Regions from separate parts of the Homo sapiens genome. Here region 2 is linked to region 1. Evidence: fine-mapped expression QTL. A gene starts in region 1. The other region holds a variant in brackets. All regions are shown on one strand. Distances are between the middles of the regions. Region 1 holds the start of TNFRSF10A (TNF receptor superfamily member 10a). Region 2 overlaps TNFRSF10A (TNF receptor superfamily member 10a).

Region 1 (5,369 bases):
CACCGCACCCGGCCACACTTTTGTATTCTTGGTGTGAGAGTAAAACTGGCACAATCTTCTCCCGAAGTACAATTTAGCAATATCCAAACAAAATTCTACATTGATGAGCTCATGTACCTAAAAATTCCTCTTCTAAAGGGCTGCCCGATACTTCAGGGAACATTGACATATGGACATATGACACATACAAGGGTTCTCACTACAATGCTGCTGGAATTAGAAAAAACAAAAGCAGGACATAATGTTAACAATTGCCCATGGGATGGAAGATTAAAATTAACTGTGGTTCACGCCATGTGTTTCACCCATGCACTAAATATTATGATGCTGTTAAAAAGAATGAGATACTTGCATGTACTGATAGAAAACATCCAATGCGATTTGTTCTTCAGTCAGAATTTTAAAAGTTAAGGTGCCTATAAATGCACAGGAAGAAGGCTGAGGGATGGTGGGATGAGAGGGTCCTGTGGGATGGCAGAAGGCCTTGGTGTCTGCTACGGGTCCTTTGTCCCTGCCAGGGCTCACGTTGAAATCTGAACCGTAATGTAGCTGGTGGGGCCTGTTGGGGTTTGGGGTGGATCCCTCATGAAAGGCTTGGTGCCATAACCGCCCCCTCCCACATTCCCCCAGGAGTTGTCAATCTTAGTTCCCCATGACACCTGGTTGTTAGAATGAACCTGGCCCCTCCCCGTCTCCCTTCCGGATCTCATCCCCCTCCTCCTGCCATCCTCCCCACCCCTTCCCCTGATGGGCAGAATCCAGCTGTCCTTCCCCTTCACCACCAGTGGAAGTTTCCTGAGGCCTCACCAGAGGCAGATGCTGGTGGCATGCTTCTTGTACAGCCTGCAGAACCATGTGCCAAATAAGCCTCTTTTAAAATTATCCAGCGTCAAGTTTTCTTTTTTATTTTTTTTCTTTTCCGAAACGGAGTCTCCCTCTGTCGCCCAGGCTGGAGTGCAGTGGCGTGGTCTCGGCTCACTGGAAGCTCCGCCTCCCAGGTTCACGCCATTCTCCCGCCTCAGCCTCCCGAGTAGCTGGGACTACAGGCGGCCACCACCACGCCTGGCTAATTTTTTGTATTTTTAATAGAGACGGGGTTTCACCGTGTTGGCCAGGATCGTCTCGATCTCCTGACCTCGTGATCCGCCCGCCTCGGCCTCCCAGAGTGCTGGGATTACAGGCGTGAGCCACCGCGCCTGGCCTCAAGTATTCTTTTATAGCCACACCAACGGACTGTGACATTTCCAAAACCACCAAATTCAGATGTTTCACCTTGTCTATACAGGTGAGCCCTACATCCACCTGGAATCGCACTAGCCTGTCAAAAAGAAAGCCATTTAATAAGCGTATTAAAAATAAGAGTCAAACGTGGGTTCCACCTAACATAAACTGACGTTTAAAACATAAATTCTGTAATTATTTGGAGATTTCAAAATGCTATTGGATTCCTGGATTTTGTTTAGTTTGTTAAACAAAAACACGTAAAATTTCCTGACACTTGTAAGACTGGTTTATCCTTCAGGTACTTAGCTTTCGTTTTGTTTTTCCTTAACATAGAAGGAATCTGGATGAGAACAATTGGTAGAGCCTTAATGAACTTGAAAGAGAACTGAAGGCATTGGCATTTTTCCAGACTGAGTGATTGCTTTCACAGGAAACGCTGCCTCCTGAAGGAAGGGCGTGCCCCGCTCCTGGCTGCCTGCCTCGTGGTGGTCAATTCGCTGCCCTGTACCTGTTGATGCGCAAGAAAGTGGCTGGAAGGAAACTGCTGCCGGTGTGCTCAGTGGACTCGAAACGGAAGACAACGAGCAGAGGAGAGAAAGTTACTTTTTCCTGCCGGGCTGCGTGTTTAACCAATTTGTCTAAGAAAAGAAGGATGGAGGGCCGGGCGCGGTGGCTCACGCCTGTAATCCCAGCACTTTGGGAGGCCGAGGCGGGCGGATTTGGCTAACACAGTGAAACCCCGTGACTACTAAAAATACAAAAAATTAGCCGGGCGTGGTGGCAGGAGCCTGTACTCCCAGCTACTCGGGAGGCTGAGGCAGGAGAATCGCTTGAACCAGGAAGGCGGAGCTTGCAGTGAGCCGAGATCGCGCCACTACACTCCAGCCTGGGCGACAGAGAGAGACTCCGTTTCAAAAAAAAAAAAAAAAAAAAAAAGAAGAGAAGAAAAGAAGGACGGGGGTGGGGAGGGAATCAGGGAGTGGGGAGAATGGCGCTCCCCTTCACGCAGCTGGTGTGGCTGGGAGTTGGCTTGGAAGTTTACACACTTGAGCTCTATCGATTCCGAAACTTCCCGATACATCGTGAGGTGTGGGCAGGAGGGAGACGCGCCAGGCAGCAGCCAACGGGGTGGAGTCCCCGGGCCCAGCCTCCTGCGGGAGGGGGCTCTGCTGCCTCCAGGCCCGGGTCGCTCCTGCCTGGCCCCGGGGACCCCGTTCTTCCTCCGACTCCGACGACGGGCTCCTCCTGCCCGGACATGCCCCGCCACAAGTGACCCGGGCCAGGCACCCCCGCCGCGTCCCCCTCTCTCTCTGCCCCCTCCCGGTGCCAGGCGCGCTTTTCCCCAGGCAGGACCGCGGTGGGGACTCACCTGCAGCAGGACCCCGACGACGACAAACTTGAAGGTCTTGTGGACCCGGAGCCGAGGGCTGGCTTCCCGCGCCGGCCTGGGTCCTGGGGCGCGCCCTGCCCGGGCCCGGGCACTGGGTCCGTGCTGTCCCATGGAGGTAGGGAGCGCTCCTCGGCCCCCGCCTCGTGGTTCAATCCTCCCCGCGGAAGAGCCCCACACTTTGCTGGGTGTGGCCGCGGCTGCCTCTGTCCCACTCGCTGCGCTCCCGGGATTCGGAGTCACTGCCAGGAACGCACCTAGATGTACTCTAGCTGGTGGTGGCGCCATCCTGCCAGGTCAATCCAAGAAGCAGCGTGCTTGGCTATGACAAGACAGAACTTCGCATTCGGAGTTCAGGGCACCCCTGACCCCGCCCCCTTTTCGGGGCACCTGCGGCTCCTGTTGGCTAACCCTGAACTTCCTTCCTCTGTGACCGCCCTTGCCGCTCTCAGCTTCTGTTCCTCAACCACGGCCGCCGCGTGGATGCCGCTGCATTCGGAGTCGTTTTGCCACTTGGTCCCAGCGCCAGGCTTCTCGGTCGGGAGTTGACCTCAGCCTTTCTGTGACCCAGTTCCTGGCACCCAGCAGGCGCTCGGTGGACGGATGGGTGGCGGAATGAAGGACACAGAGGCCACTGCGGGGTCTGGCCTCTAAGAGGCTTTTACGGCCTCCTCCGTCACTACCGGGCGAGTGATTCAGCCTGCCTTTTTTTTTTTTTTTTTTTTTTGAGATGGAGTCAAGCTCTGTCGCCCAGGCTGGAGTGCAGTGGCACGATCTCGGCTCACTGCAACCTCCGCCTCCCAGGTTCAAGCGATTTTCCTGCCTCAGCCTCCTGAGTAACTGGGATTACAGGTGCCCGCCACCACGTCCGGCTAATTTTTTTTCTATTTTTAGTAGAGACGGGGGTTTCACTGTTTTGGCCAGGCTGGTCTCGAGCTCCTGATCTCGTGATCCGCCCGCTTCGGCCTTACAAAGTGCTGGGATTACAAGCGTGAGCCACCGTGCCCGGCTCATCCTGCTTTTGGTTTCAGGTCTCCATGCCAGTGAAATGTCACCTCAACTCCACCGTCCCTGGTGTCAGGCAAGCCCGAGGGACCCAATTCTGCCTTTCTTCTGGATTTTCCTAACCTGTTAAGAGTCTTGAAAGTCCTTAAACCACGGGAGACTATCTGGCACATGACACGGGATGAGACTTGGTGGGGGTCCCACGGGGGACAGGTCCTTCCAGCGGTTCCTCTGCACCCAGCGCTGCACGGGCATGGGGCGTGGGTAATCAGCCTCCCGAAAGCCACGCGAGTCACGGTCCTGCCTGCGAAGAACTCCCAGGGCGACCTTGGGGCTGAGGAGTGGGTAAGAGAAAGGGGGCGCTGATTGATGTTCATTTTTCTCCATATTTTAATGGTGTTCCGGTACCATTTGTTGAAAAGACTCTTTTCGACCGGGCGCGGTGGCTCACGCCTGTAATCCCAGCACTTTGGGAGGCCGAGGCGGGCGGATCACCTGAGGTCAGGAGTTCGAGACCAGCCTGACCGACATGGAGAAACGCAGCCTCTACTAAAAATACAAAATTAGCGGGGCGTGGTGGCGGATGCCTGTAATCCCAGCCACTCGGGAGACTGAGGCAGGAGAATCGCTTGAACCCGGGAGGCAGAGGCTGCGGGGAGCCGAGATGGAGCCATTGCGCTCCAGCCTGGGCCACAAGAGGGAAACTCCGTCTCAAAAAAAAAAAAAAAAAAGACTTTTTTTCCTTATCCAATAGCCTTATCACTTTTGTTGAAATTAAATTGACCATATATATGTATGTGTCCATTTCCGGACTCTATTCTGTTCCGTTTATTTATTTGGCTATTCTCATGCTAATTACCACATTGTCCTAATTATGAGCTGTATAGTCAGTCTTGAAATCAGGCAGTTCAAGTCCTCCCCCTACTACCCACCTCCCAAATGGTTTGCATTTCCGTATATATTAAATATAGAATAATTTTTTTCAGTTAAAAAAGCCTACTGGAATTTTAATTGGGATTGCATTGAATGTAGAGATGAATGAGAATAATTGACATTTTAACAATTTTGAGTCTTTCAATCCATGAAATTTATTTATTTAGATATTTGTTACTTAAGCTTGACAATATTTTGCAAACTTTCCATGTACAAATCTTTCATATCTTTTGTAAACATATTTCTAACTATTTTTGTTACTATTGCTAATGGAATTGATTTAGCTTCCCTTATTTTCAAATTGTTTGTTGCAACTATACAGAAATACAGTTGATTTTTGTCCATCGGCCTTGTATGCTATGGTACTGCTAAATTGATATATTTCTAGTTGTTATTTTATAGATTATTTAGGATTTTCTATGTAAGCAATCCTATTGTCAGTAACCAAAAACTGTCTCAGTTCTTCCTTTCCAATCTTTATACCTTCTATTCATCTTTGTTGCTGAATTGCCCTGGATAGGATTTCCAGTACAATGTTAAATAGAAATAGTTAAAGCAGACATGCTTATCTTATTCCATATCTTAGAACACATCTAATTAATCACCATTAGATATGATGTTAGTTATAGTTTCCTCATAGATGCCTGCTGTAGTTTGAATGTCCTCTCCAAAACTCATGTTGAATTTTTTTTTTTTTTTTTTTTTTTTTGAGACAGAGTCTCACTCTTTCGCCCAGGCTGGAGTGCAGTGGCCTGATCTCGGCTCATTGCAACCTCCACCTCCTGGGTTCAAGCAATTCTTCTGCCCCAGCCTCCCCAGT
Region 2 (5,369 bases), 24 kb before region 1:
GTTCGTCTTGTGTTGGCAAAAGGTCTTTCTACAGTAGTGAGCAATGAAAAGGTAAAAGTATCTACAGATTTCACTGGTTAAAAATTAAAGCTTCTACACCTGAAAATATTAGAACAAAAAGGGGCAAGAAGAAATTAGGAATCTACTGTCTGAATGTGAGAAAAAGCATGAGTAGGAGAGCAGGCCTTCTCATAAAGACTCTGAGAGACAAGACACTGATCTTACGCAAAAACAGTGAAAACAAAGAAATGTTCGTTTAAAACAATGTTTTCCTAAATAGCAAAAAAAAGAAAAAAAAAGAAAAGAAAAAGCCCTTCAATGTCAAATCAAAATACATGAACTGGTACAAACCAACACTAGGGGGCTGTGTGCATGTGTGTACCTGTATGTGTGGGTACGTGCATGTGTGTGTGCATGTGTGTACATGCATGTGTGTGCATGTGCGTGTATGTGCGTGTACACAGTAAGCAGCACTGTTACAGGCTGACTTGGAAATTGTGCTTCTTCTTGGAATCCTCCATACAACCATATGCAGAAATTTGGGCAGAGATTTAGATCCAAATATGTTTAATGCAATAATAATTTCAGAGTAAATTTAAAATCCCTGCTGTTATGAGCAAGGGCTCCCTAACTTCTGTAGGAGCACACAGTGGAGACCGTGCAGCCTTATTCAGTCATCAACAAACCCTGTGACCCCCACTCTATTCCTCTGGAGCTCCAGTTTCTGAGGACATGGCAAGGACAGGACAGGGACTAAGAAGCAGACATTTGGAAGAGTGCCTGTCCCCTTGTGAGGGTGGCTGCTTTTTCCCACGCAGCCCCGTCCCCTGCAGTCCCATCTCCCTCAGGCTCCACTTCCCCTTTGACCAGGAGAGCCGAGGCATGGCCTTCACCCCCTGCCTACAAGGTCTTGGAGGGGCCTGTCCCCAACTCACCAGCAGACACTGTGCCTCCCCTGGGGACTGTACAGTGACACCTGTCAAATCTGCCGGCTCCTGGCTTTCCATTTGCTGCTCAGAGACGAAAGTGGACAGCGAGTCTGCGTTGCTCAGAATCTCGTTGTGAGCATTGTCCTCAGCCCCAGGCCCTCGTAGGAGACCCAAGCGCCAGAAACACACCTTAGGAAGGCAAAGAGCCAACTCAGAAGCCCACACCCAGGGCTCCCCACGGGGTCCGTAGGGCACGGCTGGACCTGCTGCCACCACCCCCTCCCAGTGAGGTCACTCCAGGAAGTCCATGCTCAGCACATCCAGGACCTGCTGCTGGGGCCAGGCCCTGGTGCTGGGCTTGGGGGCTCACCCCATCCCCAGGGTACAGGCTGTGGGGTAAGGGTCTCACCTGGGCTGTAGGAAGCACAGGGCTACAGAATGGCCCACCAGCCTGTATGATGCTCAAAAGGGCCTGTGTCCCCCATAGTCAATGCACAGCATCCAGGCCACTTCAGAGACTCAGGGCAGCCATGAGAGCACGGGGACCCACCCACCTGGACTACACTGTGGGCAAGAAGCAGTTCCTGAGCCCCTGATGCCCCCAGCTCCTGGAGAAATCAACTCACCCTGTCCATGCACTTGGGGTCCCCTCCACAACCTAGAAGAGAAGACGGTTCCCTTAGTGGCCAGGGAGGGGCCCATGCAGCACTCCTTCTTAGAGGGCAGTGTTGGGCAGGGGTGGGCTGGGGGCTGGGACACTGGACAAAGATCCCCGGGCCTGGGGATCCACATGAGGCCCTGCTAACTCGGGAGATCCTTCAGGAGCGGGGAGCATAAAGGGAAGTAGGCTAAAAACAAACAAGTGGAACATCACTGTTTTCTGCTCTGTGTTTTGCTCTGAACAAAGCTACATAAATCCCACAACCACTTCTCGTCTCGACTCTTGTCATCCAGTTGAGGAGCTGACTGCCCCCTGCCTGGATGGGCCTGACCAGTGGAGGAACTGGCCCTGCCTTCCCAGACTTGGCTGGGAGATGAGGGGACCCCCAGCCTTGGGAGAGGGACGGATGACACCAGGGCCCTAGGGTTGCACAGGATGGGAGGATGGGGGGTGATCACAAGGAGGAAGATAGAGCCCGGCCAGAGACACTAGGACTTGGGGCAGGGGTGAGCGTTTCTGTCTGTGGGAACAGAAGAAGGCAGGGCAGAGAGTGCCCAGAGCCCTTGCCCTCAGCCAGCACCTACCTGAGCCGATGCAACAACAGACAATCAGCACAGCCACCAACAGCAACGGAACAACCAAAGTCACAACCAAAATCACCCATATATTATGTCCATTGCCTGAGAAAAGACAGGAAAAGACAGGAGTCTCGGGCTGCTGGTCCCTGTCTCCTCTGCAGCTGGGGCTTCCCCAG[T/C]GGGCTTTGTACCTGATTCTTTGTGGACACACTCGATGTCACTCCAGGGCGTACAATCCTTGACCTTGACCATCCCTCTGGGGCACCTGGGTACACACAGGGAGGGAGGGGGGGGACTCTTGATGGAAAGCTGGCCAGGTGGGATGAAAGAGGAGCCACTCTCCCTGCCCAATGTCCCTGAGAAGGCGTCAGGGGAAGGATAGTCTCCTCGTATCTGCAGGGGGTCCCCCTATGCTCCCTTGTTTAGGCTGGGGAAGGGTCTGAGCATGCACACTTTACCCCCTTGGCCTCCCTGCTCTGGGGTCAGAGCTGCAGTTCCAGGAGCCTTCTGTGCTGGGCACACACTAATCTTCCCTGGGCTGCAGGGGAGGCCTGCGTTAGGAGGAATCACACTCCAGGGGAAGATCACAAGCCCGTGTGGCCACAAGCTGAGCCCCTTCCTCCAGTTAACCCACAGTACAAGTGAGCCCTCGCCCCCACCTGTCTGCTGGTTCCTCTCAATCACAGCAAACACTGGAGGACCAGAGAAGAGCAATTACTCTTTGCTTCCAAAACCAAAATAGGAAAAAGACAGGACTTATTGAGAAATCAGGGGCCAGGGGTGAGGCTGGCTGGGTGGGCTCAGGTCCTCATGGGAACTTGAAGGAGCTCCACCCATGGCCTTATTATGATTTTTGCGGGCTGTGGGCATTTCTGTCTTCTTGAATTAAAAGCAAATATTAAAAATTACATTTTATGACTCAATTTGTTTAAATATAAATATAACCCCAGCTGGATTCTATACCATTATTTTCTTATGATTTCAAGATAAAATATTTCATGTACCTCTGTTGTGGGCCCTAAGTCATGGCCTCCTGTGCCTAGTGAACAAGTCAGCCTGGCCAAGGGGACTAGTGCTGGGGAGGGGTGAGAAGGGGCCACTGCAGGGGACAGGGGTGGGGACAGGCAGATGGACCAGGAGGGGCAGGTTGCAGGCTCAGGAGACGCCACAGGCTCAGGGACACCTATGGGGGTGGAGGCACCATGGGGTCAGGGCTGATAGATACGGGTACAAGGAGACTCGGGTCTTTTTAGGGTTCCTTGCTTCTGTGGGTTCTTTGAGGCTGCTGGGAGCCCCTTGGCTGTTGTCTCACCCTCTGCTGCACTTCCGGCACATCTCAGCAGAATTGTCATTCCGGAAAGTTCCTGGTTTGCACTGACATGCTGTGTTCCTGGTCGTGGTGCAGGGACTTCTCTCTTCTTCATCTGATGACAGAGTACAAGGTTTTGGGAATGTGTTTCCCTGACGTGTCCCTTGACCTTTCCTCACCACCCCAACTCCCTCCCCCTCAGCTCAGCTCAACTCAGTTTGCCAAGGAGTTCTGAGGGCCAGATTCTGCACCAGCACACTCGGGCTCACACAGGACACCCACCCTTCAGCTGTCACCAACACTTGGAGTCATACAAAAGGACCATGATTCATTATTTATTACATCAGATTAGGGAAAAAGCACCATTTAGATCGCATGGTCAGTAGCAAAGGAGGCACATGGTATGTGAGAGAGTCTGCAAGAAGAGGAGCCCTTGGGTGACTTCCCAAAAACCCAGCCTGCTGAGGAAGAGGGAGGCGCCTGAGAAACTGAAGGCTGAGTGAGCCTGAGAACCTGCCAGGAGCACACAGCCCAGGGGGAGCGTGGCCCCAGAGCAGACCCGTACCACCGCTGAAACTCAGCCCTGTCCACTCAGCCAGGCCTTCTTTGTGCTGTAATGATGCCCCTACCCTCTTGGAGCTGATAGTTTGCACTACCAGGTGGCATGCATTATAAAAATGATTTCTTTCTGTTTCATTTTATGGACCTAAGACATAACCATGGAACAGGGTATGATGAAGACCAAGTTGGGCTGGAACTTGGTTCCCTGACTCACATTGGCTACCACTCCCACCTCACTGCCCCTCACTCCACCTCTGGACAAGAGGTCCACACATTCTGTACCTGATTTACAAGCTGTACATGGGAGGCAAGCAAACAAATTGTTGGAAGCATTGGTGTAACCCACACCCTCTGTGCACCGGTTACAGGCTCCAGGATGTTCTGATCTATGAGATCCTGGGAAGGGAGAGAAAAGCCAATGAATGAATTGCCACAGAGTTCCCAGAGGATCGTGGCGGTGGCTAGGAAACTCTTCTTTTGGCCATCAGTAGACCCCAGACAGAGAAATCCCATCTTCTTGGCTTGGTCTTGTCGTCAATTCTGCATCTATACACACCTCTGACTGGCGCTGCTGACAGAAATACAATACAAACCACATGCAAAATTCAAATTCTATGAGAGCCATATTAAAATAGTAAAAAGAGAATGAGGTCAAATTAATTTTAACAATGTACTTTTTGGACCTAAAATATCCAAAACATTAGCATTTCAACATGTAAACAAGATAAAACATTGAGATATTTTCTTTTATTTTGAATACTAAGTGTTCGAAACCCAGAGTGTATTTTTCACTCACTGCACATCTCAATTCAAAGTGGCTGTGTTTTAAGTGATTAATGGCCACATAGGCCTAGAGACCAGGGCAATGCCACCTGCATCCCTGGAAACTCACAAAAAGTCCTAATCCCTGCCCTCAGTGAGCTCTTGGTCAGTAGAAGGTACAAACAGGCGCAGAAACAATACAGCGATGAGGGGAAGGCTTCAGATACAGCCCATGCCACCTGCCATGGGAGGAAAATGGAAGGAAAAAGGGTCCTCCCTATACAGAGTCAAAGAATGATCCACAGAAAGAAGGCCTACCTCATGCTGCCCTGGATTGCAGAGGGTCTCCAGGCACTGAGGTGACAGCCTGCAGGAGCTGTCGCCAGCGGGAGCCCATGTCTGGAGGCTCGACCTTCACCTCCAGGGCTTCGCCCCTTCAGGTGACCTCACTCTCCCCTTTCAGTGCCCATTTATTTATCCCTCTCCTCTGATTCATATTTACTGATATTGAAAGATACTCTTAGAAAACCCAAACTGTGGAAAAAAAACTTCCTTGATAATGTGTTACGATG

What was found. PIP is the estimated chance that this variant, and not a neighbour inherited with it, causes the effect.
Region 2: its variant is fine-mapped to the expression of TNFRSF10A in whole blood (TOPMed, PIP above 0.99).

Annotation. Positions count from the first base shown.
Region 1 is chr8:23,222,163-23,227,531 of GRCh38, forward strand. TNFRSF10A (TNF receptor superfamily member 10a) reads right to left here and starts at 2,940. Exons shown (of 10, transcript NM_003844.4): 1 at 2,594-2,940. The coding sequence starts at 2,899. It overlaps TNFRSF10A-DT (TNFRSF10A divergent transcript), which reads left to right and starts at 3,059. Exons shown (of 3, transcript NR_033928.1): 1 at 3,059-3,961. RefSeq lists promoters at 2,432-3,468, 2,897-4,702, 2,897-3,550, a cis regulatory region at 2,432-2,511, silencers at 2,533-2,782, 2,950-3,141 and an enhancer at 3,193-3,332.
Region 2 is chr8:23,198,331-23,203,699 of GRCh38, forward strand. TNFRSF10A (TNF receptor superfamily member 10a) reads right to left here. Exons shown (of 10, transcript NM_003844.4): 3 at 4,318-4,431; 4 at 3,478-3,589; 5 at 2,357-2,430; 6 at 2,175-2,270; 7 at 1,556-1,587; 8 at 936-1,118. Among named protein-coding and RNA genes, the nearest start is that of TNFRSF10A, 24 kb to the right of the region's middle. The variant T/C (reference allele first, on the strand shown) is at 2,345.